4 linked regions of the Homo sapiens genome follow. The protein of the gene in region 1 interacts with the protein of each later gene in a biochemical or structural test. Each region holds a gene or a part of one and is shown on either strand. Other genes may lie near its edges.

Region 1 (5,836 bases):
CTTCTTGGAAACACAAGATGCTGCTCCTTTTCAGGCATTTGCAGGAAGAAATTGCTCTCCTGCAGTATTCATGTAACCACTAAACCCACAGCCACAGGGTGTCCCCGGGGCTTACCTTTTCTGTTCAGTGTTTGATGCCCTGTGGTTTTTCTCTCACAGAGACCACAGTCCAGTCATCATGGCACACATCGTCTTCAACGTATTGCTCAAAGGCCTTTCTCAGAGAGTGAGGTCTGCGATTCTATAACTGCACTTTCTTTTTTTTTTTTTTTACTGTCATTGTTTAGAAAGCTTGGGATGACTGTATTTATTAGGAACTGCAAGGAAGGATTATATAGATATACACAGATATACGGTTAAATATTGAACTGAAATATTAACTATCCCAGATGCTAATAATTAAATCAGTGCTACAAAACCCCCAAAGTTAAGGGCCAAGATCAATTTCTGGGACACTACTGACCCAACATTAATGTAGGCAGAACAGCAAGGAGACGATGAGGAGAAAAATAAAACATGAGGCCAGAGTCTGTAGCATAGCTCATTTTATTGTTTAAACAGTTTTTGCATAGGAAATATATCCGCTTCCAGTAATTGACTGCAGTATGAGCAGCTGCTAGCAGTATAGGCTGGATATAACAGTAACAATCACATTAAGTCAAGCTTGATTTACACCAGTTTAAAACTTGTGGCAATTGAGTTCATTTGCAACCCACAAAAAGTACCCAAAGAACGTTATCCTCCAACCGGGCACAATAAAACCTTCACTAACATTCTGGCCCAGTCTGGGGTTGATCCCAGAGGCCTGAACTCTAGAAATTAAGTAACTGTCGTATAATACATCCTACTGCTAAAGGTTTGTTACATGGAGATTGTGCATGTGCCTCCTTTTGTAAAAAAATTTAATTAAAATACAAGGTTCTGTATTTATGGCCCATGAGGACAAAATGCCAAAAGTTTTAAAATGGATCAACCCTGGTGTGTAGCTAGCAAGCAATAACTGACTACTCGTCACCTACAGTTGTACTAAATGTATCTAAAGAAACACACAGTCCTACAAAAGTTGTTCTCAGAGAAATATCATTGAGGTGGGGGCAGCTCTTCCCAGGATGCTAAAAGTTCTATATGATATAAGCACAAATTAACAGCTTGATGAAGACATAATCTACTGCAGCTTTGAGAAACCTATGCCTGGGATGTAGTTACCCCTCACATTCTACAATGTTGTAGAGATTTTTTTTCCCAAGAAAATGTCATTTGAAACATATTTACAACTGAACTCAACAGAGACTGTGAAATTGAACAGGCACTGCTCATTTGTTTGAGTTTTTTGGTAAACATTTTGCTGGTTTTTTTTTTTTGTTTGTTTCTTTCTTGTTTTGCATCAACTTTTATCAGTCCATGCAACTTCAATGCCCTCGATGAAGGATGCATAAAAAGCCATACTTCTTAAAAAAAAAAAAAAGAAAAAAAAAGACTTCCTTCTGCATAAAGAGATATATTTGCCACATCAGTCCCTGTAGCACAGTTTTCAAAACCATTCTGTCAAAAATACAGTAATACAAGACTGGCTTTAGTGTCACTAGCTTACACTGCTTTTCATGTATTTAGGCCACCTGTTGTTCCTGGTACTGTATCATGCAATAAGTCATCAAGGGCTTAGTCTAGTGTACCGGTAAGCTAGTGGCACTGAAGCGCTTTTCACAATCTCAACATACATTTGAATTGCAACACACAGATATTTCTAGAGTATTAACTAGTGAACCCTTTTATTATTAAAAAAAAAAAAAAACTACTTACAACCATTGAAGAAAAAATTGCAACAAAAAATGTAAAAATTGACCGTCTCCAACTTGTCCCCTTTACTATTAACAATGTGACCAACAGATCTGTGGCACGGACACAGTACAAAGAGTTGTCATGGCAATGAGTTTGGCTGATGCAAAGGTCATTGTGCAGGGTCAAAGGGCAAAATCAGTGGTCCATGTTACCCCCCAACTGCAGGGCTCCACTCCACCCACACAATTTTAGGGAATTAGAAAAAACAGGGGAACTACCAGAAAGTGCAAAATATGAAGAAGGCAGCTTTCAGCTCCTTCAGCATGGAGTAGAACATTCATTTTTGAGCTTTTACTATTGAACTTGAATAGCCTGCACATTAAAAAAAAAAAAAAAAAAAAAGTTTTCTATAGAAACCCAATTTCTTAAAGTCCAGAAAGCATGCAGCTGGTTAATGTTAACAAAAGACCTTGACAGGAACATGTAAACTATATTGAATGTCATGCTTGGGGCCTATCTGCCAGCAATATTGTAGAGTTGTTTCATTAAAAATGAATACTGTACACTGAATATGGGATAACTTTCTGCAGCCTTCATCATTTCACACAGTACATAGAATTTGAATCTAGGTAAAGAACATGTCCTGCTGTCACACCGCTGAAGATGTCCCTGTGCAATCTCTTTCGTTGAGTCCTTATGAAGCTACAAGTCACAAATCCAAGATTCTGCTCCCTGAGGACACGTTATGTGAGACATAGCACTGTTTTAGTTTTCTGCCTATCCTGAATGCTCTGTGAAACTTAACCTTAAATACCATCACGTAACAATCACAAAAACTTTTGCTAAAGGCCGTATATACTAATAAAAAGACAGTGGTGCTTCGACATTCTGAAATGCTCTGGAAACCAACTTTTCCAATACTAAATACAACAAAATAACCTTCATAAAATATAACTTTTCTCCATTTACACTTTTTTAAAGGATTAGTATCCTATGCTTTTCAAGCACAGGAATCTGTGAAATAACTCCTAACATGGACAGATTTTCTTTTTAATACATAACTTAAGAGACTGGAGAGTTTTAACTCAAGTCCAGTCTCTAAACAAGGAATATTCTTGTTTACTTTAAAAATGGAAACAACATATAGTTCCATTATAATTGTTAAAAAGTTAGCTTTACAAACATGGGAATTTTAATTTAAAAAAAATTCTTAACAAAACTATACAGTGTACAAATTACTGTCTACAAGGTAGGCGGTTCATTAAGAAGACCTTTCGCTCTTCTCGCTACTTGCAGCTTCACAGATTCATTCACATATTTTTTAATGGAGCTGCCCACCCGAACATTACCCGATAACTATATTGCTATAATTAAGATTTTTGCCATGTCTTTATGTACAGTCTCCTTCACTGCCTTTTATTTTTTTCCTTAGACAAGCCTCAAATGCTCACGTCACTCCAGGGGTAACACGCTTCAGAGGCACTGTGAGTGGTGGGTGGCAGGGCAGCACACAAAGGCTGAACAGTGCCACGGAACTGATGGTTGGAGACACCACTCCCTACTCATGCCCTTGGGTGACCTTCGCCATCCTGAAGCTCTGCAGTTCTGGGTAAGGGAGGGGCGTGCAAGACCTGCAAAAGTGGGGCCCTTCGTCAGAATATACTTCCTGGTACACGAGGAGGAGGCCGAAAAGTTGATTTGAGATTTTATATATATAGTAGTACTTTTAATAGTTTTATCTCAAAAAGGAAAGAAGAAAAAATTGATTTGAAATAAAAAAAGCAACACTTGAACTAGGCCTTTGTATTCAAGAGGCAGGCAGGAATACCCACAGTGTGTAACTTGGTTAGCTAGAACTGCTCACTGGCAAAAAAGAGAGCGAGTCTGCCTTTAAAAAATACTGTGTGTCCTGTGAGGTTCATTTGTTCACCTAATAGGTCAAAGATACATGAAGAGCTTGGCTGAGATGATCTGTTTGCTACCAGGGCGAGTATCACAGAAATGATTGGACTTACTTTTGAACTTGCACTGCTAGGATCCCGCTGTGCTGTTCAGCATTTGGGCTATCAAACTGAATGGGCTAATCAAATACAATTCTCCAGCCCATAAGCATTGTTCTAAAGTATTCATTATTAAATGATATGCTGTGAGAACAATTGACAGTTTATTTTATTAGGCCATGGCCTAGGGGAAGGGGGCCAGGGGACTCCTTAAGACAGCCTACCATGTGTCACCAATTCTGAAAGATTTTCCTTCTAGTAATGAATACACTCAATGGGACTGGGCGGTGAGGGAAAGGCAAAATAAAACCAGCCTCCATTCAGCCTCTAGCCCTCAGGGGAAACGAAATCAAATATATAGTTAAGGTACCATTCCTTAAAAAAATCCCATCAGCATCTAATGGGTTTAATTCATCCACAGGAAGATTAATTGCTTAAAATTCTATATTTCCCTTCTGCTCTGGTTCTCAGTTTTAAAAGGGGAGATAAAATGAAAACAGGATTTACTTTTTTGTTCCTTAAAAATTGAACTTTGATTTTAATCTATCAGTCCAAATACATTCAACAATAGCAACCCTCTGTTCAATCTTCTGGATATTAAAAAAAAATCCAAGTGCACTGCCATCCATTTGAAGTAGTAAGTCACAGGTAAATCATATCCTATCATTAATGAAATGAAATGGGGACGAAAAGTGGCAGAAAAGGAATACGGGAGACTCCCTCCAACAGGTCTAATGTGTTTTCTAGGAGAAAGAATATTCATGTGTTAAACTCTCAAAAGTGTTAAACATCCAACATCCCCTATGTGGACATTTCAACAAATATTTTTGCCAAATATGAGACAGGCTCACTCTCCACTGTGGATCTGGAACTTTCAAGAAAAACTATCACCAAGCCAAGTCTGCCTTTTTAAGCCAAGTCTGCCTCCAGGAGAATTTGTTGTGTTTGCTTGTTCTTACTATTGTGTTGTTATGAAAACCAGTAATGAGTTCAGCTTGCAACCCAGGTGGGAAGTTAGAGAGGGGAACCTGTGTAAGTTGAAGTTTGTCACAGTAGGCAGAACAGTCGCTTTGCAGCCCAGGCCCATCTCAGGGTGCACTGCTTCACAGCTACACTGCAAAGTGTTAAAAATCCTCCCACCCACCCCAGAATATATATATATGTATATTAAAAAAAATCCCCTGTCCATCTCTCAGTACACAAAAGGACCTCATCACACTGCAAAAATAGCAGTACCCACTTTGGTCAATTAAAACAAACAAACAAACAAAAAAGCATACATTATTTTTTTTTTAAATCTGTGTACTTACCTATAATAACCAATACAGCTAAAAGCACTACCTACATAGGCAAAACTTGGTATTGCATAATTCGTATAAATTTGAAACCCCTCCCCCCCAAATATTAATTGGAAGATGAAAAACATGAAAGGTTAATAGAAAAAAACACCAAAATACTGAAAATATTGCTGGTCGATTACAATTTTTAAGCGGCAACTATACACAGCCATGATATGCTTTATAAATGTGAGATAAAGGTATAACTGTCTAAAAAATCCATGATGTCACACATTTTTCTTCGTCTGGAGTACAAAATATTTTGTCATAAAAATGGTAAAGATTTAAAATGATAATAAATGCAGCAAAACAAGTGTAGTGATGTCACTTTGTTGTATTTTTTTGTTTTTTTTTTTTTGTTTTTTGTTTTTTAGATTTCAAGGCAAGGCACGTAATGTGGACATTATATCTTCGTGCAAATTAGGATTACTGGAAAGAGTATTTTTAATTAAAATTTTAAGAGACATAGAGGCAAAATGTGTCTGCCCATGCACACTATGGATCTGTCAATACAAGAAATTTGTTGAACAAGGCTAATGTCTGAAAGCACCATGCAAGTTTTCAGCACCCTGATTACATTTGTTTTCTCAAGAGTGCGTTTTTATATCCTACACCCTGGCGTTCCCAGTTTGTAAACTGTAAGCTTTACCCTTGTGACATGGATTTGCCTGCCTCTTTGTCTCTATAATGCAGATTTTATAGAACCTTTTGTACACCCTA
Region 2 (5,018 bases), on another chromosome or scaffold:
TGCATTTATTCTTTTTTTTTTTCAACTTTTATTTTAGGTTCAGGGGGTGCATGTGCAGGTTTGTTACATGGGTAAATTGCGTGCCACTGAGGTTTGGTGTATGAATAATCCTGTCACCAAGGTACTCAGCATAGTACTTGATAGGAAGTTTTTCTTTTCTTTTCTTTTCTTTTTTTGAGACGGGAGTCTGGCTCTTTTGCCCAGGCTGGAGAGCTGTGGCATGATCTCAACTCACTGCATCCTCTGCCTCCCGGGTTCAAGCGATTCTCCTGCCTCAGCCTCCTGGGTAGCTGGGATTACAGGCGCCCACCACCACACCTGGCTAATTTTTGTTTTATTAGTAGAGACGGTTTCACCATGTTGGCCACAGGCTGGTCTTGAACTCCTGACCTCAGGTGATCCACCCACCTCGGCCTCCTTTGGTGCTGGGATTACAGGCGTGAACCACCGTGCCGGCCTGTGATAGGTAGTTTTTTCCACCCTGGCTCTTCCCCTGTAGTGGTCCCCAGTGCCCAGTGTCTATTGTTCCCATTGTTATGTCCACACCACATTTATTCTATGAAGCCACAGAGTGGGCAGAAGCCTGGCTTTTGGGTTGGAAATGACTAGAAGTCACTAAAAAACAATTGGCCCAACACATAGAAATGATGAATACTTGAGGTGATGGATGCCCTAAGTACCCTGACTTGATCGTTACACACTCTATGCATGCAACAAGATCTCACATGGACGCCAGAAACATGCATAAATATTATGTATCAATAACAAACACAATGATCCACAATTACTGGGTTTTTTTTTTTTTAAGAGACAGGGTCTCACTCTGTTGCCAGGCTGGAGTGCAGTGATGCCACCATAGCTCACTGCTGCCTCAAATTCCTGGGCTCAAGGAATCCTCCCACTTCAGCCTCTTGCAATTACTGAATTCTTCAATTATAATGCTTAACATTCTTCGTGCACTTACAGTATACCAGGCACTGTGCTGAGGGTTTTGTGGTCTATTATGTTACCTAATTCTCTCACCACCCCATACAAGGAAGCTGGCTCAGAGAAGGTTGTGTAACTTGCCTGCAATGGCCCAGCCGACAGGCCCAGGTCCTGGGATTTCAGATCACACAGTTGCTCCCGGATGCCCACTTGCCCTCCCAATGGCATGCCTGGTTTTCCTGAGCCTCACCATTAGGGAGCTTGAAGGGGTGGATGTTATAATTAATAGAAGTCCAGGGGGCTGAGTGAGTGGGCCAGGGGCAGAGAGGGACCTGGGGTCAGGGGCCCAGCCCCTCAGCCTGTGGGCCCAGCACCTGCCCTCACATGGCTCTGATGCTGGGTGGAGCCGGTCAGACTCCCTGCTCTACCTGCCACTTAGGAGCTTGGCAACTTTAGATACCTCTGCACCTCTGAGCCCATTTCCTCACCTCTTCCTGGGGATAAAGGTAACGACTTCCCAGACTCAGGAAGACTGCCTGAGACAATGCGTGAGGAGCCCCATTAGTGGCTGTTTCTGTTGATATCATCATTTTCACCTTCCTGCTGGTGCTCCTAGGGCTCTGGCCGGGAGGCTTCCAAGAGTGCCTTTCTAACACCTGTCCTCACAGCTCCAGTAAAGCTGCGCTGCCTGCACTCCCTGTGCTAAATTGCAGACTGCCGCCTGCTGTGGGATTACGTGTATCAGCTGCTCCTTGATACCCGATATGAGCCCTACATCAAGTGGGAAGACAAGGACGCCAAGATCTTCCGAGTTGTGGATCCAAATGGGCTCGCCAGACTCTGGGGAAATCACAAGGTGAGCCTCGGCCAGCAGAATGGTCTCAACATAACCAGAAGGGGACAGAGTTGGGGGTCAGAGTGGACCCCTAGCACTATGGGACAATCCTCAGCTGATGGGGCCTTCATCAGCAGCCCCAAAAGTGACAGGATAATTTTATTTGGGGAGCTATTGAGGGACAGGCAGTTACCTCTTATGGATGGGGAATGTCTCTGAAACTGAACAATTGTGTCTTCTCATTGCTTAATCTTACCTTTGCTTAGTATTTCAGGCTTTAGAAGCATGTTTACATGAACTGCACAGTTAGGCCAGATGAGGAAGCTGCTTTCCTGCGGGGAGCTGGACAGAAACCCAGGTCTCAGGCCCAACAGGAGCATCTGATGTCAGGGCTGGAAAGGCCTGGGGATGACTGAGGCCAGCATTCCCATGATGAGGAATGCCTATACCTAAATGGGTGTCTGTAAGATGATCTTAGGTGGTTTAATATCCTCATAATTATTTTTGAATTAGGATTACAAAATGTAACTACCATGACCATCTCATGATTTACAGCAGTGATATAAGGAATGTAGCCTTTTAAAATAAATAGGTTTCTTTAAGTAAAAAAAATCTTTTAAAGAAAACTATTAACGATAATGATAATCATCGATTTATAGCCTTTCCTAAGATGTAATGTGCCTGATTGCCAGGCACTGCCCTGAGGGCTCCACTTGTACTAATTCATTTAATCCTCATACCAAGCTCGTGAAGTAGGTGTTGTCGGATGTGGAGACTGAGGCTCAGTGAGGGCTAACAACTTGCCCCAAGTTTACCCATCCCCTGCTATGTAAGAGGCAGAACAGGGAGTTGAACCCAGGCCATGTGCTGCACTATATTATACTGCTCTTAGCAGTGCTGGTGGCTGGAAGGATGCAGATGACTAAAGTTCGGGAGGACTTATTGGTCTAATCCTCATATAGAACAGGGAGGAAAACAGGCCCAGAGAGCAGCAGTCCCATTTAATGAGCATATACTACATGCCATACACTGTGCTAACTGCTTTCATGGATTAGCTATTAATAATTTAATCCTTGACTTATGCGATGGGTGTTCTCCTTTTCATTATGTAGCTGGGGAAGCAGACTCAGAGAGGTCAAGAAACTTGTCCAAGGTGACACAGCTGACAAGCGGTGGAGCTGGGGCTTAAATTGATGCCACACCCCAGGCTCTTTGGCCCTACCTCACACTGCCTACCCCCGAGAGAGAAAGAAATGACTTGGCCAAAGTCACCCAGGGTGTGGCCTGGCAAGGCCATCCATGCCACCCCACCATACTGTCTCTCTGATTGCATTTCCCACAAATATATATATTTATTTGTTACTGTTGTGACATTTGCTGTTTAAAAGTAACATGCAGTTCACTCCCACACTATGTTCTCAGCCAAGTAGGCAGGAGAACCTTTCCATCATTTCCTTCCTTCCTTCCTTCCTTTCGCCTTCCTTCCTTCCTTCCTTTCTTTCTTTTTGTAATGGAGTCTCAATCTTTTGCCCAGGCTGTAGTCTAGTGACATGACCTCGGCTCACTGCAACCTCTGCCTCCTGGGTTCAAGGGATTCTCCTGCCTCAGCCTCCTGAGTAGTTGGGACTACAGGCACGCACCATCACGCCTGGCTAATTTTTGTATTTTTAGTAGAGACAGGGTTTCACCATGTTGGCCAGGCTGGTCTCAAACTCCTGACCTCAAGCGATCTGCCCACCTAGGCCTCCCAAAGTGTTGGGATTACAGGTGTGAGCCACCCTGCCCAGCCCCATCATTTCTTCCCCAACCTTCCCCTGCCTTTTTCCTTCCAAACTCAAGTGAGCACTCATAAACCCTCACAGATCCCTGGAATGAGAGGCTTAAGAAGCTGTCCAGTCCACCCTACTCCCTTCCAGGTGTGGAAGGAGCAGGACATGGGGAGTGGGGCTGATGTGGGGCTGCTTTGCTTTCCAGAACCGGGTGAACATGACCTACGAGAAGATGTCTCGTGCCCTGCGCCACTATTATAAGCTTAATATCATTAAGAAGGAACCGGGGCAGAAACTCCTGTTCAGGTGAGTGGCCTAGGGGATGTGGTGAAAGGGGAAGCAGAACTGGGGTTGGGTGGGCTGGAATCCCCCTGCAGCTGGGGCAGGAGCTGATTTGCAGTTGGGGCCTGAATTCTAGATTTCTAAAGACTCCGGGAAAGATGGTCCAGGACAAGCACAGCCACCTGGAGCCGCTGGAGAGCCAGGAGCAGGACAGAATAGAGTTCAAGGACAAGAGGCCAGAAATCTCTCCGTGAGGGGCAGGTGGACTCCAGGCACCCGGTACCGATGGGGCAGGGACCGAGTCTCCCATGAAGGCAGACTCCTCCTCCCAGCAGAGCAGCAGGATCCCCAGCCAGACTCTGTACCCACAGGATTACAGCCATTGCTTGGGAAGGCTGGGAGGCCTCCCATCCAGGACACTGGGGGCAGGAGTGTCATCTTTTGGGCAGGGCAATCCTGGGGCTAAATGAGGTACAGGGGAATGGACTCTCCCCTACTGCACCCCTGGGAGAGGAAGCCAGGCACCGATAGAGCACCCAGCCCCACCCCTGTAAATGGAATTTACCAGATGAAGGGAATGAAGTCCCTCACTGAGCCTCAGATTTCCTCACCTGTGAAATGGGCTGAGGCAGGAAATGGGAAAAAGTGTTAGTGCTTCCAGGCGGCACTGACAGCCTCAGTAACAATAAAAACAATGGTAGCTGATGTTTCTTTCTTTTATTTTTTTGAGACAGTCTTGCGCTGTCACCCAGGGTGGAGTGCAGTGGCACGATCTCGGCTCACTGCAACTTCCGCCTCCTGGGTTCAAGAGATTCTCGTGCCTCAGCCTCCGGAGTAGCTGGGATTACAGCTGCCCACCACCACACCCGGCTAATTTTTGTATTTTTGGTAGAGACACAGGGTTTCACCATGTTGGCCAGGCTGGTATCGAACTTGCGACCTCAGGTGATCCTCTTGCCTCAGTTTCCCAAAGTGCTTGGATTACAGGCGTGAGCCACTGCGTCCAGCCGATGTTTCTTAAGTGTTTGCTATGTGCCAGGCCTTGTGCTAAGGGCCTTGTGGATATCTTATCTCATTTAATTCACTCGGCATTCAGGCGTGAAGATGAGGACACTGAGGGAGAGGCTTGTGGAGCTGGCCCGCCTCTCCACAACCCAGGGCTTCGACCTGTTTTCTTTCAGCACCTCTGACTGTATGTGGATGCT
Region 3 (5,076 bases), about 110 Mb from region 1:
TTGAAATTTTGTGTCATTAGGAAAACTGGAGCTTAAGCTGCCCTTTGTTAACTGCGTTCACTCCTCGTAGGGAAAAGCTGCAGGTTTTTCAGGAGGCCTCCCTCATCGCCTGACATGCCTTCTTTCCAGCCCAGCCAGGAGCAGAAAAGGGCCTCTGACCTCTGCATCACAAGCATCTGGCAGGGTGTGCTCATTAAATATTTGAAAGAATGAATGAATGAATAATGAATGAATGAATGAATGGGATGTTGCATATCCTCCACTTGAGCACATATCACACCCTGTTAAGATATCTTTTGTCTGTCCCGTGTCACCATTCTGATTCCTTGAGAGCAGGAATTGGATCTTTGTCTCGGCATCTCTGTAATCCGTCCAAAGCCTGGCACAAGACAGGAGCCCCAGGAATATCTGATGAATATGTGAAGACCTAGAATTGATCTCTGGGCCTCAGTAAAACTCTTAGGTCCTGTCAATTTCACACCCAACCAAATGGCAGCAGCCCCAAGTAGTTTCAATAAGTGGTTTTATTACTGGTTAGATTTTACAAATTCTGATATTCGAACAGACTTCCACCTTAAAATTCTAAAACAACAAAGCGACCGTTGGAGGGGGTTTGATTTTTCCTTTTTTTTTTTTCTTTTTTTCTTTTTAGGACTATTCAAAGTAACAAACTTTTTTTGTTGTTTTTTTTGTTTTTTACATTTTTGCTCTGGTCATAAATATACAGAGAAAAAGAGGGAGAGAAAAATGAACAAGTCATCCAAAGTATGGAGATAAAACAGTATTCCTAAGGCACGTGGCAGTCTTTGAAAATACAGAAGCTCTAGCCAACTTAAATTATTTGTTGTTTTTCCTCGCTCAGTCCACAAAACTGTACAGTGACACAAATGTTGTGTTGCAGGTAGATCTTCCAAGTTGTTCCTCGGTCCACACCGCTGCATTAGCCGGGCGCACACTTCTTTTTTTTACCTCTGTTTCCAGGCGAGATCCTAAAATGTGGTTAGTTAGTTGCTCAAAGCCTCTATTTTAAAATACACTTGGAATTCAACTAAAGATAATTTCTTTTTTAAAGAAATTGTGGGGTGAGGGGTTGCGAGTCATTAGAAAAGGTTGGTAAGAGTCGTTTGTGAGGGGCTGTGAGGCTCATGGCCCTCCAGGTTGCCAGGCACAGAAGTTAAGACGGACGTCACAGTTGGCAGGGTGGGGCTAGTCAAGTCTGTCAGGGTGGTGGGCGTGCTGGAGGGGCTGAGCGAGGCGTTGGAGAGCTCCGAGGCCGGGCCCGATGGCGTCCCTGTCTGCAGCGCCGCGTCTGTCGACTTGTCCACGCCCGTGTTTTCCTGCCGTAAGAGGTTGCGCCTGAACTTGGCTCGGGCGTTCTGGAACCAGACCTGCGGGGGACGACAGGGAAGGGCTGGTGAGCGGAAGGCAGGCAGAGCATCCCCCCGACTGCTTCACTCAGAGCTCTGCTGCCTCTGGGGACGCTGATCTGTGTTTTGCCAAGAGGATCCAAAAAGTCAGGTTGGCAATATTTTGCTTTTTTGGTTTTTTTGTTTTTGTTTTTGTTTGCAGACAGGGTCTGGCTTGGTCCCCCAGGCTGAAGTGCAGTGACACAATCTCGACTCACTGCAGCTTCTAACTCCTGGGATCAAGCGATCCTCCCGCCTCAGCCTCCTGGGTAGCTGGGGCTATAGATAGGTGAGCACCACCGGCCCCGCTAACTTTTTAAGTTATTTTTTGTAGAGACGGGGTCTTGCAATGTTGACCAGGCTGGTCTCAAACTCCAGGCTTCAAGTGATCCCTCCTGCCTCAGCCTCCTAAAGCGTTGGGATTACAGATGTGAGCCACTGCACCTGGCCAATATTTTGCTCTTAATAAAATAAAACAAAAATTTCACTCTATCTAATGGGCTACGGCTGGGCTTCTCTTTCTGATAGGTGGTTCCAGAGCTGAGCTGTACTCCCGAATATCACAGCCACGAGCCACGTATGGCTGCTGAGCACTTAAAATGGCATTAGCCCAAATTCAACCAGTCTGCAGGTGAAAACACACAACCTATCTGAAGGCTGAATATGAAAAAAAAAGCAGGTAGAATATCTCAATAATTTTTATATTGATTACATGTCGAAATGATTAATAGTTTGGCTATACTGAGTTAAGCAAAATACATTATTAAAATTAATTTTACTTTTACTTGTCTCTCTTCATTTCTTCAAGGAGGCTACTAGGACATTTAAAACTTAAAATTAAATGTGTGCCTCATGTTGCATTTCTATCAGACACACCAAACACACACACCAGACAAATCTTGATCCTTTTCCTAATGGTTCTTTGAGACATTCCTTTTTTTTTTTTCTTTTTCCTTTTTTGGCAGTTGCCTTTCAGCAGACAATAAACCCCACAAGTTCTTGTTGGTAAAATGTTTTAAATGTTTTGTGGTCAGTAAGTCTGGGAATGCGATAAAGAACACATGAGAATCAGGCAATAATAATGAGTTACTAAGAGGAAGTGAAAGACACGGAACCTATCCCCATCATCGGTTGGGGGAGCCACCAGGTACCCTGGGCCACTGGGTGTCAGGTCTCAGGGTGGAGGTGGGTGGAGGTAGGCAGCGTGGGAACGGCAGCCAAATTAAAGTGAGGCCAGGGAAGTTGAAACCCGCAGAGTCTCTCTCCCGACCTGCTGCATCCCGTATCGACTTATGAGGGACGTGCGGCGGGGCGCAGAGCTGGGGCTGAGCTCTGTCTGAAAAGAATGTCAGTGAGAGAACATGGGTTTACTTTCATTTTTCCTTGGGCACAGACACACACGCGTCCACTCCCATATCTTTGCACACACGCCTGTAAGCATTCAGGAAGACACACAGAAATTCATCTAAGGACGGGCACAGTGGCTCAAGCCCGTAATCCCAGCACTTTGGGAGGCCGAGGCAGGTGGATCACTTGAGGTCAGCAGTTCGAGACCAGCCTGTCCAACATGGTGAAACCCCATCTCTACTAAAAATATAAAAAATTAGCTGGGTGTGATGGTGCGCTCCTGTAACCTCAGCTACTCGGGAGGCTGAGACAGAAGAACTGCTTGAACCCGGGAGGCGGAGGATACAGTGAGCCAAGATCCCACCACTGCACTCCAGCCTGGGCCACAGAGCAAGACTCCATCTCAAAAAAAAAAAAAAAAAAAAAAGAAAAGAAAAATGAAATTCATCTACACAGCCAGCACCTAAGTACCACCACCCATCTAACAGCACAAACACAGGGACCCGCTGTACCCAGAGGTCCACGAAGTACTTTGGGAGGGGCTTAGGAAATCCAGGCCACTCTGGGGGGGTTGAACCTTCCAAGGAAAAAGTCCTGAAAGGCAGGGCCCCTTCACTTCCCTTTGCGTGAGGAAAACACCCGCCAGAAGCCTCCCCATAAAACAAAGGGCCTCAGGGCACTCTGCAGATTCTGGGGTGTCCAGTTGCGCATTTCCAGATGTCCTGCATCTGCCTGTCTTCCCAGTGTCTCTGGCAGGAGAGGGAGGGCTGACTCCTGGCCCCACGCACCCCTTGGGACCACCCCGGCTGCAGGGGCCTGTGGCCTCAAACCCCCGTTTCTGGTGGCGTAACACAATTTGGGCTCAATTAAAAGCAAATCCACAAGAATCTTGGAGTAAAGTGGGAGATCCAGACCCTGTGAAGTGGAGAAACCAAGCTCCCTCCTCAGTGCTGGATCTTCCCAGGAAGAAGGCACATTTTCCCTGGCTCTCCGCCCAAAGAAAGCCCATCACCCCTTCTGGGGGCTGGCAAATAAGTACAGTGCTTCTCAGACCACCCTTGACATGCTTTCCCTGGGGTGGGGGGGTCCTTCCCTTTCCCGGCCAGCAGAAATCTGTAGGGGAGAGACTGTGTCCTGGTGGCCTAAAGAAAATGGATGGGGAAGCCCCCAGAGGCCCTCAGAGAGAGGAAGTGACTTCCCCAAAGTCATGCAGATTGGGGTGGAGAAGGCCGGAGCCTTGGTGCCGCTGCCTTGCCACTGTCCTGGCCTGTGTGCGTGTGACCCCTGAGCAGCCTGTGCTCTGTGCGTCTGACTCTCAGAGCAGTAGCTGGAGCGGGGAGCCTGGGTCGAGGGTTTGAGGGTGCTTTGCCGGGTGCTCATTTGCTCATCCATCCGGGGCTCCAAGACCTCGGGCAGGGCTGGACCCGGTTAGTTGCCGGCTGTTTGCTATTTCTCAGGCTGTTGCCCCTAACAGTGGGCTTGTAAACAATGACACCATCGTCCACAACTACCTTCTCTGCTTTCCAGAGCTGAGGCACTGGGAATCTGGTAGATGAAAATTCAACAACTTCATTAAAAGCCCGGCTGCTCTGGGGTTGTGTGGGGTTTGTTCTTCATGTTGTCAGGGCTTCACTAGAATTCTCTCCCAGGTATTTCAAAAAGTCCACTCCTGAGAGTTTGATGGGAGCAGGGACCCTTTCTATGCTATCTTCATGTCCCCCGGTGCATGGCAGAGACTGGCAGAGATTAAGAATCAGTAATATGTATTCATAGGAATGGCTGACATGTATGTACCTTTTACTATGTGCCAGGCTCCATGCCACCCTCCAGCATGCACTGCCACAGGTTATTCCCATGAAAAGCCAAGTAGGTGGATTCGACTATTATTATTCCCATTTTATAGATTTATTTATTGACTATTATTATTATTATTATTATTTTTTGAGACAGAGTCTTGCTCTGTCACCCAGGCTGGAGTGCAGTGGCACGATCTCAGCTCATTTCAACCTCTGCCTCCCAGGTTCAAGTGATTCTCTCCTGCCTCAATCTCCTGAGTGGCTGGGATTACAGGCACCCGCCACCATGCCTGGCTAATTTTTTTGTATTTTTAGTACAGACGGAGTTTCACCATGTTGGCCAGGCTGGTCTTGAACTCCTGACCTCAGGTGATCCGCCCACCTTGGCCTCCCAAAGTTCTGGGATTATAGGCATGAGCCACCGTGCCTGCCCTCACTGTATAGATTTAAAAACCAGAGAGGGTCAGAGTGGTAAAACCACTTGCCAAAGGTCACACAGAGGGCAACCTGAGACTGGAATCCAGGAC
Region 4 (7,042 bases), on another chromosome or scaffold:
CAGAAAGGGACAGGGGAGGAAGCAGGGCAGAACCAGGGACAAGGAGGCAGAGTCATGAAGACTGGGGTGGCTGTGGCAGTTTCTTAAAATAAGACAATAATGAAGTTTGCCACATTGATTGACTCTTTTATTTATTTATTTATTTTTTTGGTGAGATGCGAGTTTCGCTCTTGTTGTCCAGGCTGGAGTGCGGTGGCGTGATCTCGGCTCATCACAACCTCCACCTCCCAGGTTCAAGTGATTCTCCTGCCTCAGGCTCCCAAGTAGTGGGATTACAGGCATCTGCCACCAAACCTGGCTAATTTTTGTACTTTTAGTAGAGACGGGGTTTTGCCATGTTGGCCAGGCTGGTCTTGAACTCCTGACCTCAGGTGATCCACCCGCCTTGGCCTCCCAAAGTGCTGCGATTACAGGCGTGAGCCAGCGCACCTGGCCCAATTGATTATTCCTTTCATGAAAGATTTCTCTATGGCATGTGATGCTGTTTGATAGCATTTTACCCAGAGTAGAACTTCTTTCAAAATTGGAGTCAATCCTCTCAAACCCTGCCGCTGCTTTATCAACTAAGTAATGTAATGTAAAGTTATGTAATATTCTCAGTCCTTTGTTGTCATTTCAACAATATTCACAGCGTCTTCAACAGGAGTAGATTCTATCTCAAGAAACCACTTTCTCTGCTCATCTGTGAGAAGCAACTACTCACCCAATCAAGTTTGATCAATAAATTGCAGCAATTTGGTTGCATCTCCAGGCTCCACTTCTAATGCTAGTTCTCTTGCTATTTCTACCACATCTGCAGTTCCCTCCTCCAATGAAGTCTTGAACCCTTCAAAGTGATCCATGAGGGCTGGAATCAGTTTCTTCCAAACTCCTGTTAATGTTGATATTTTGACCTCCTCCCATGAATCATGAATATTCTTAATAGCATCTAGGATGGTGACTCCTTTCCAGAAGGTTTTCAATTGACTTTGCCCAGATCCATCAGAGGAATCACTATCTATGGCAGCTGTAGCTTTATGAAATGTATTTATTAAGTAATAAGACTTGAAAGTCAAAATTACTCCTTGACTTCTGGGTTGTAGAATGGATGTTGTATTTGCAGGCATGAAAAATATTAATCTTCTTGTATATCTCCATGAGAGCTCTTGGGTAACCAGATGCACTGTAATGAGCAGTAATATTTTGAAAGGAATCTTTTTTCTGAGTAGTAGGTCTCACCTGGGCTTAAACTATTCCATAAACTGTGAAAACAGATGTGCTGTCGTCCAGACTTTGTTGTTCCATTTACAGAGCACAGGCAGAGTGTATTTAGTAGCACTGGCTTCAACTTAAAGTCACAAGCTGTACTAACAAGACTCAGCCTGTCCTTTGAAGCTCTGAAGCCAGGCATGGACTTCTCTTCTCCAGCTATGAAAGTCCTAGATGGCATCTTCTTCCAGTAGAAGGCCGTTTCACCTACAGTGAAGCTGTTTGACGTAGCCACCTTCATCAATGAGCGTAGCTAGATCTTCTGGACAGCTTACTGCAGCTTCTCCATTAGCACTCGCTGCTTCACCTTGCACTTTTATGTTATGGAGATGGCTTTTTTCTTTAAACCTCATGAACCAACCTCTGCTAGCTTCACACTTTTCTTCTGCAGCTTCTTCGCCTCTCTCAGCATTCAAAGAATTGAAGAGTTAGGGCCTTGCTCTGGGTTAGCCTGAAAGGAATGTTGTGGCTGGTTTGATCTTCTATCCAGACCACTAAAACTTTCTCCATATCAACAATCAGGATGTCCCACTTTCTTATCATTCATGTTTTCACTGACGTAGCACTTTCATTTCCTTCAGGAACTCTTCCTTTACATTTACATACTTAACTGGTATAAGAGCCCCCTAGCTTTAGGCCTGTCTCGGTTTTGGACATGCCTTCACCGTCATCATTCTAGCTTTGGATTTAAAATGAGAGATGCGCAGCTCTTCCTTTCTCTTGAACACTTTATAGGCCACTATAGGGTTATCAATTGGCCTAATTTCAAAATTGTTGTGTTTCAGGGAATAGGGAGACCCAAGGAGAGGGAGACACAGGAGAGCAGTTGGGACACACACAACACTGATCAAGTTTGACACAGGAGAGCAGTTGGGACACACACAACACTGATCAAGTTTGCTGTCTTATACAGGTGTGGTTCATGGTGCCCCAAAACAATGACAATAGTAGTATCAAAGCTCGCTGATCTCAGAGCACTATAACAGACATAATAGTAAGGAAAAAGTTGGAAATGTTTGAGAATTACCAAAATGTGACATTGAAACACGGAGTGAGTGTGTGCTGTTGGAAGAACAGACTGGCGCTGACAAGACTTGCTCAGCGCCAGGTTGCCACAAACCTTCGATTTGTAAAAACCACCAATTAATTGTGAAACGTAATAAAGCAAAGTACAGTAAAATGAGGGATGCCTGTATGAGGTGTGATAAGGTAACCACGTGACACAGGCCATGCCAAGGCTCCCTTACTTCTCCCCTTCTTCCTGCCATGATTCTAGCTGGAAATAACCAACCTTCGGAATTTGTACCTTCAGGGTATCGGGTTATTACAGCACACACAGCTTTCACCTCTTCCAAAGCCCACCACTAAGCAAAGCTGACAGCCCACAGATTATCAAATGTTTATGTGCACACAGCATCACACTGCACACAGCACACCCCCCACACACAGAGAAAAGGAGAGTTTCTGTGACAAAGTGCTCAGGTAAGAGGAAAACCACTGAAGCCTCACTGCTGCCTGTGGAACACCCTGAACCCCACAGTTGTCCTTCACTCCTGAGGCCGAAAGGAATTCCACAGAATGCCTGGCTGTTGAGAGCCACGCTGTTTCTGGCTGTCACCTGGAAGACAAACTACTGAGCTGGTGCTGGTGGGTGAGTTTCTGGGGCACCCCCTGAAGCAGCTCCCAGGGGAGGGAATCTGAGAGTCCAAATCTGACACTGACATACCCTAATCCTAAACCACCCCTGGCTTCAAGATATCCTATCTGATCTCAGGGAATCCGCCTGGGTGAAACCGGCTGCAAGAACTCAACTCTGAATAAGTACCACACCCCTGACTACCACCCGGGCCCCTCTGGTGTCTCCCTCATTGCCCCTTCTCTCCCTCCCTGTTGGCCACCCATGGCCATGCCAGGAGCAGAGCCCACACTCTGGGAATGTGAGGGAAGTTCAAAGTGGGGTCTGAGTCCCGAGGCTCTACCATCTCCCAGTGTAGCTGGTGACCCCCTTAGTTTTGCGTGGTTTAGAGGACTGCCTGGTGCCCCTCCTCCTCCTTTGACCCGAAGGCCCTCTCTGAGCCAGGTCCCTTTACTTCCACTCTCCTGCCCTGGGTCCAGATGCTGCCTGTTGCCTCCCTCCCCTCAGGACCATTTCTGGGCTTCCTGGCACTAAATCATCACAGCCCCACCCTCACAGCTTGGCTGAGGACCAGGCACCCTCACTGCCTAAGGCACAGGTCCTCTTGTAAAGATCCTGGCTTTCCTACGCCTTCCCACCTAGTTTCAGGCCATGCTGGTGGCTTCTGGCTCCTGGTCGTGCCCTCTGCATCCATTTGTTGGGCATCCACCCTTGATCCTTCTCTCACGCCCTCAGCCCCACCGATGGGAGCCACCACTCCATCCACATTATCCACAGGGCTGGCTGAGCTGACTTCCTCTGAGACAGGGCTGGCATCTGCCTCACTCTGTTCTGAGAAGGTGATCCAGGCTCCCAGGGAACACAGACACCTAAATCAGAGTCAGCCCTGGCCTGGCTTCGGACCTTTCTCACCCTGACAGTTGTAAACACACAGGAGGCCAGGGGAGGAGATGCTCAGATCATCTACCCTGGCCCTGCCTCTCAAGATACTCCCCTGAGCTACATCAGGAGCTGCTGTTTCTGAGCCATTTGCTCAGCAGCCCTTGGTCACTGGACAGCCTTGCTTAACTGGAAGATGCCTGATTTAAGAGCACACGTGCTCACTCTGACCTATATCCTGATCCCCTGGCCCTCCCCCTCCGCAGTGGCGCGCGTCACCACCAGCTCACAGGCTTGAGCTGTCATGAAATCCTGGGCAGAATCCAGTCCAGAGAAAGCGTGGAGAGGACAGTGGCCCAGAGCTGCTTTCAGGTGCTCCATGGACGGCCATCGTGATCAGGGACACTGCCTTCTCGCAGCGGGAATGCATTTCATTTGAGAGCATGGATTCTGGAGGCAGACACTGGATCCAAAGCCACCTCTACCACCTATTGGCTGTGGGACCCTGGACGAACTACTTTACCTCTGTGCCTCATTTATCTCAGCTGGGAAACAGGATGATAATAATAGCACAGGCTCAGCATCCCAAATCCAAAAATTCCCAAATCCCAAATCCTCCAGAATCTGAAACTTTCTGAGTCCTGACATGACACTCCAAGGAAATGCTCATTGCAACATTTTGGATTTCAGATTTTCAGATGTGGGATATTCAACTGGCAAGTATCATGCAAATATTCCAAAATCTGAAAACATCTGAACTCTGAAATGCTTCTGGTCACAAGCATTTTGGAAACAGGATGCTCAACCTGTATCCACGTGACAGGGCTGCTGTAAGTGTGGATACAGGCAATGCATGTAAAGCATCTGGAGCAGTGCCTGGCACACGTGGGGAGCCCGTCATATGCTGCCGCGGCTGCTGCTAATGACAACAGGGACAACTACGATGAGATTACAGAGGCAGGGGACGGGTGCAGCTCCACGGTTAACAATGCTACCAGGTGTCCCCAGCTCACAAAGCCTGTCCATGGTCCCATTTTCCACACATGGAACCTGGCCCAGAGAGCAACCGCCCACAGTCCCACTCCTAGGAAGCAGGGTAGCCAGGAACTGAATGCAGGTCTGTGAACCTAAAACGAATACTCTTTTAACCTCTGCCACTAAAATTGCATCCAATTTTCAAGGGGAAGGAGAAATATGGTTTCCCAGCACCTACTACGCCTTTGCACTGCAATTGTCAGCTGGACAAGAAAGAGCATCTGAATATCTGATTTAAAGGAAAAGGCTGCTTTCTCTTTGGGACTAATAACAACGAAGGCTTTTTTGGCTCTGCAAGTTTGCTGTCCTCTCGCCAGTGCTGTGGACTGGGGCTTTCTCAGAGTAGTGCTGCTTTCAGCGAAGCAGCTGTTTGGGGTGGCCCCTTTGTTTCTTATTACCTACGCTATGACCACAGCTCCACACTGACATGCGATGGCGGCATCAGTTGACATCTATTTTCTTGTTAACAGAACACAAGTGGCTCCTTATTAAGCGCCCCCAGAGAAGATTCTGCCATAAAAATTTCATAAAGCCCAAGCGCCTCCCGAAATGTAAACTGGCCCGCTCAACTTTCCCTTGGAAATCGCTGGTGAGATCTGCTTTGTCGGCCAGTGTGCGTGTTCCACCTATGGTCACTTTAGGCCGCTAAAAGCAAGAAACCAATCAAGCATCCCACTAGAGTCGACAAACCAAACCCTGTCTCATGTGCACCCCTTGGTCTGAGGATGGAAAAGCAGCTTCCCTTCACATTTACACAGTGACCTCGGTACGAGTCATAGGACAACGTTTTGAGGGACAGAAGGAAGTCTCTTTAGTTGCTCTTCCTTTTTTGCTAAGCCACTGAAGCTGGCTGTGGCTTAGATGACAGGAATGACTCTTACCTGTGCGGTGAAGAAGGCTGGGGTGAGGGATCCCGAGGGGAGGGCTGGGCTGTTGAGGGCGATGGAGCCGATGTCGGTGCCGGAGAGCACCAGCGGGGGCGCTGAGATTTCCAAGCCTTTGGGTTTTTTGGCCTTTGGGGGAAGAGATGGAGACTTGGTCTTGGAGCCCGATGACAGGTTCAAGGGCTCCAGGGAATCGGAGTCATGGCAGGCGGCCTCCAGGAAGAGGCTTCTGTGTTCAGAAGGGAGGGGTGAGTTGGGGGACAGGGACGGGGACCGAGATGAGAAGGGTGAGGCGGATGAAATACTGGCAGCGTTTGGCAACATTAAAGAGGAGATCTTGGCCGAGACGGACGAGGCCAGGAAGGCGGACGCCGCCGCAGCCTCTGACGTGGAAGGCAGGGACACCACCGGCCTGGTGACGTGCTTGTCGGTTTTATTGGTCACAAACCTGATCACAGTCCTGACTTCTTCCACGGGGGGGCTGTCTTCGGGCGGCTCCTCCAGCTTCTCCGTCTTGATGGCCTTGAAGGCGTCTGGTGGGTTCTGCAGGGAATTAATGGTGAAGGACGAGTACAGGCCTGAGTGGATGTATTCGTTGCGGCTCGTGCTTCTGAGGGCGGCCAGGCCGTGTTTGTGGGCCTCGCGGCCCTCCGGAGACGCCTTGCAGTCGCTGTCCTGCAGCAGAAGGCTCTCCCGGCTGATCTCCACCGCGTGAGGATCCATCTTCAGGATCTCCGGGAAAGAGACAAACTTGTACACAAACTTCTGCCCGATCACCTTCTTGATGATGTTCTGCAAATACAAAAGTAGACGTTGAAAATCTGAGTGCACCCGAGAAACCATGTAAGAGCTCATGATAATGGTAAATGTCGCTGGCAGAAGCACCAAAATGTTCCTGATTTACATTCTTGGCTAAGGAAAAGTGGAAGGAGGAATGAAGTTGGAAGTAGAATTAGATGTGCATTCCAGTTCTGCCATTACTAGATCTTTGTGATCTTTGGCAAATTAAGTGCCACTTTGAGTTTCCTCGTCTGTAAAGTAAGGAAGATGATGATGATGATGATGATTTCTTAGACAGGGTCTCACTCTGTCGCACAGGCTGGAGTGCAGTGGCACGAACATGGCTCACTGCAGCCTCAACCTCCTGGACTCAAGCAATCCTCCTGCCTCCACCTCCTGAGTGGCTGGGACTACAGGTACATGCCACCACACCCTGCTAATTTTTACATTTTTATTTTTTGTGGAGACAGCATCTCACTTGGTTGCTCAGGCTGGTCTCAAACTCCTGGACTCAAGCAATCCCCCAACCTTGGCCGAGTGAGGATTATTCTATGTAATAACATAGTAACAGCTGCCATTT

What was found.
Region 2: the proteins of NFIB (region 1) and ETV7 form a complex in vitro, tested with the Homo sapiens proteins (one study listed by BioGRID).
Region 3: the proteins of NFIB (region 1) and LHX2 form a complex in vitro, tested with the Homo sapiens proteins (one study listed by BioGRID).
Region 4: the proteins of NFIB (region 1) and ELK3 form a complex in vitro, tested with the Homo sapiens proteins (one study listed by BioGRID).

What each region holds. Positions count from the first base shown.
Region 1 is NC_000009.12:14,081,320-14,087,155, forward strand, and holds the end of NFIB (nuclear factor 1 B-type), read right to left. Parts: 3' UTR 529-5,836; downstream 1-528.
Region 2 is NC_000006.12:36,365,694-36,370,711, reverse strand, and holds the end of ETV7 (transcription factor ETV7), read left to right. Parts: intron 1-1,640; coding exon 1,641-1,783; intron 1,784-3,736; coding exon 3,737-3,837; intron 3,838-3,949; coding exon 3,950-4,067; 3' UTR 4,068-4,518; downstream 4,519-5,018. UniProt on the Homo sapiens protein: Transcriptional repressor; binds to the DNA sequence 5'-CCGGAAGT-3'. Isoform A does not seem to have a repressor activity. Isoform C does not seem to have a repressor activity.
Region 3 is NC_000009.12:124,028,732-124,033,807, reverse strand, and holds the end of LHX2 (LIM/homeobox protein Lhx2), read right to left. Parts: intron 1,389-5,076; coding exon 1,101-1,388; 3' UTR 507-1,100; downstream 1-506. UniProt on the Homo sapiens protein: Acts as a transcriptional activator. Stimulates the promoter of the alpha-glycoprotein gene. Transcriptional regulatory protein involved in the control of cell differentiation in developing lymphoid and neural cell types.
Region 4 is NC_000012.12:96,246,372-96,253,413, reverse strand, and holds part of ELK3 (ETS domain-containing protein Elk-3), read right to left. Parts: intron 6,475-7,042; coding exon 5,680-6,474; intron 1-5,679. UniProt on the Homo sapiens protein: May be a negative regulator of transcription, but can activate transcription when coexpressed with Ras, Src or Mos. Forms a ternary complex with the serum response factor and the ETS and SRF motifs of the Fos serum response element.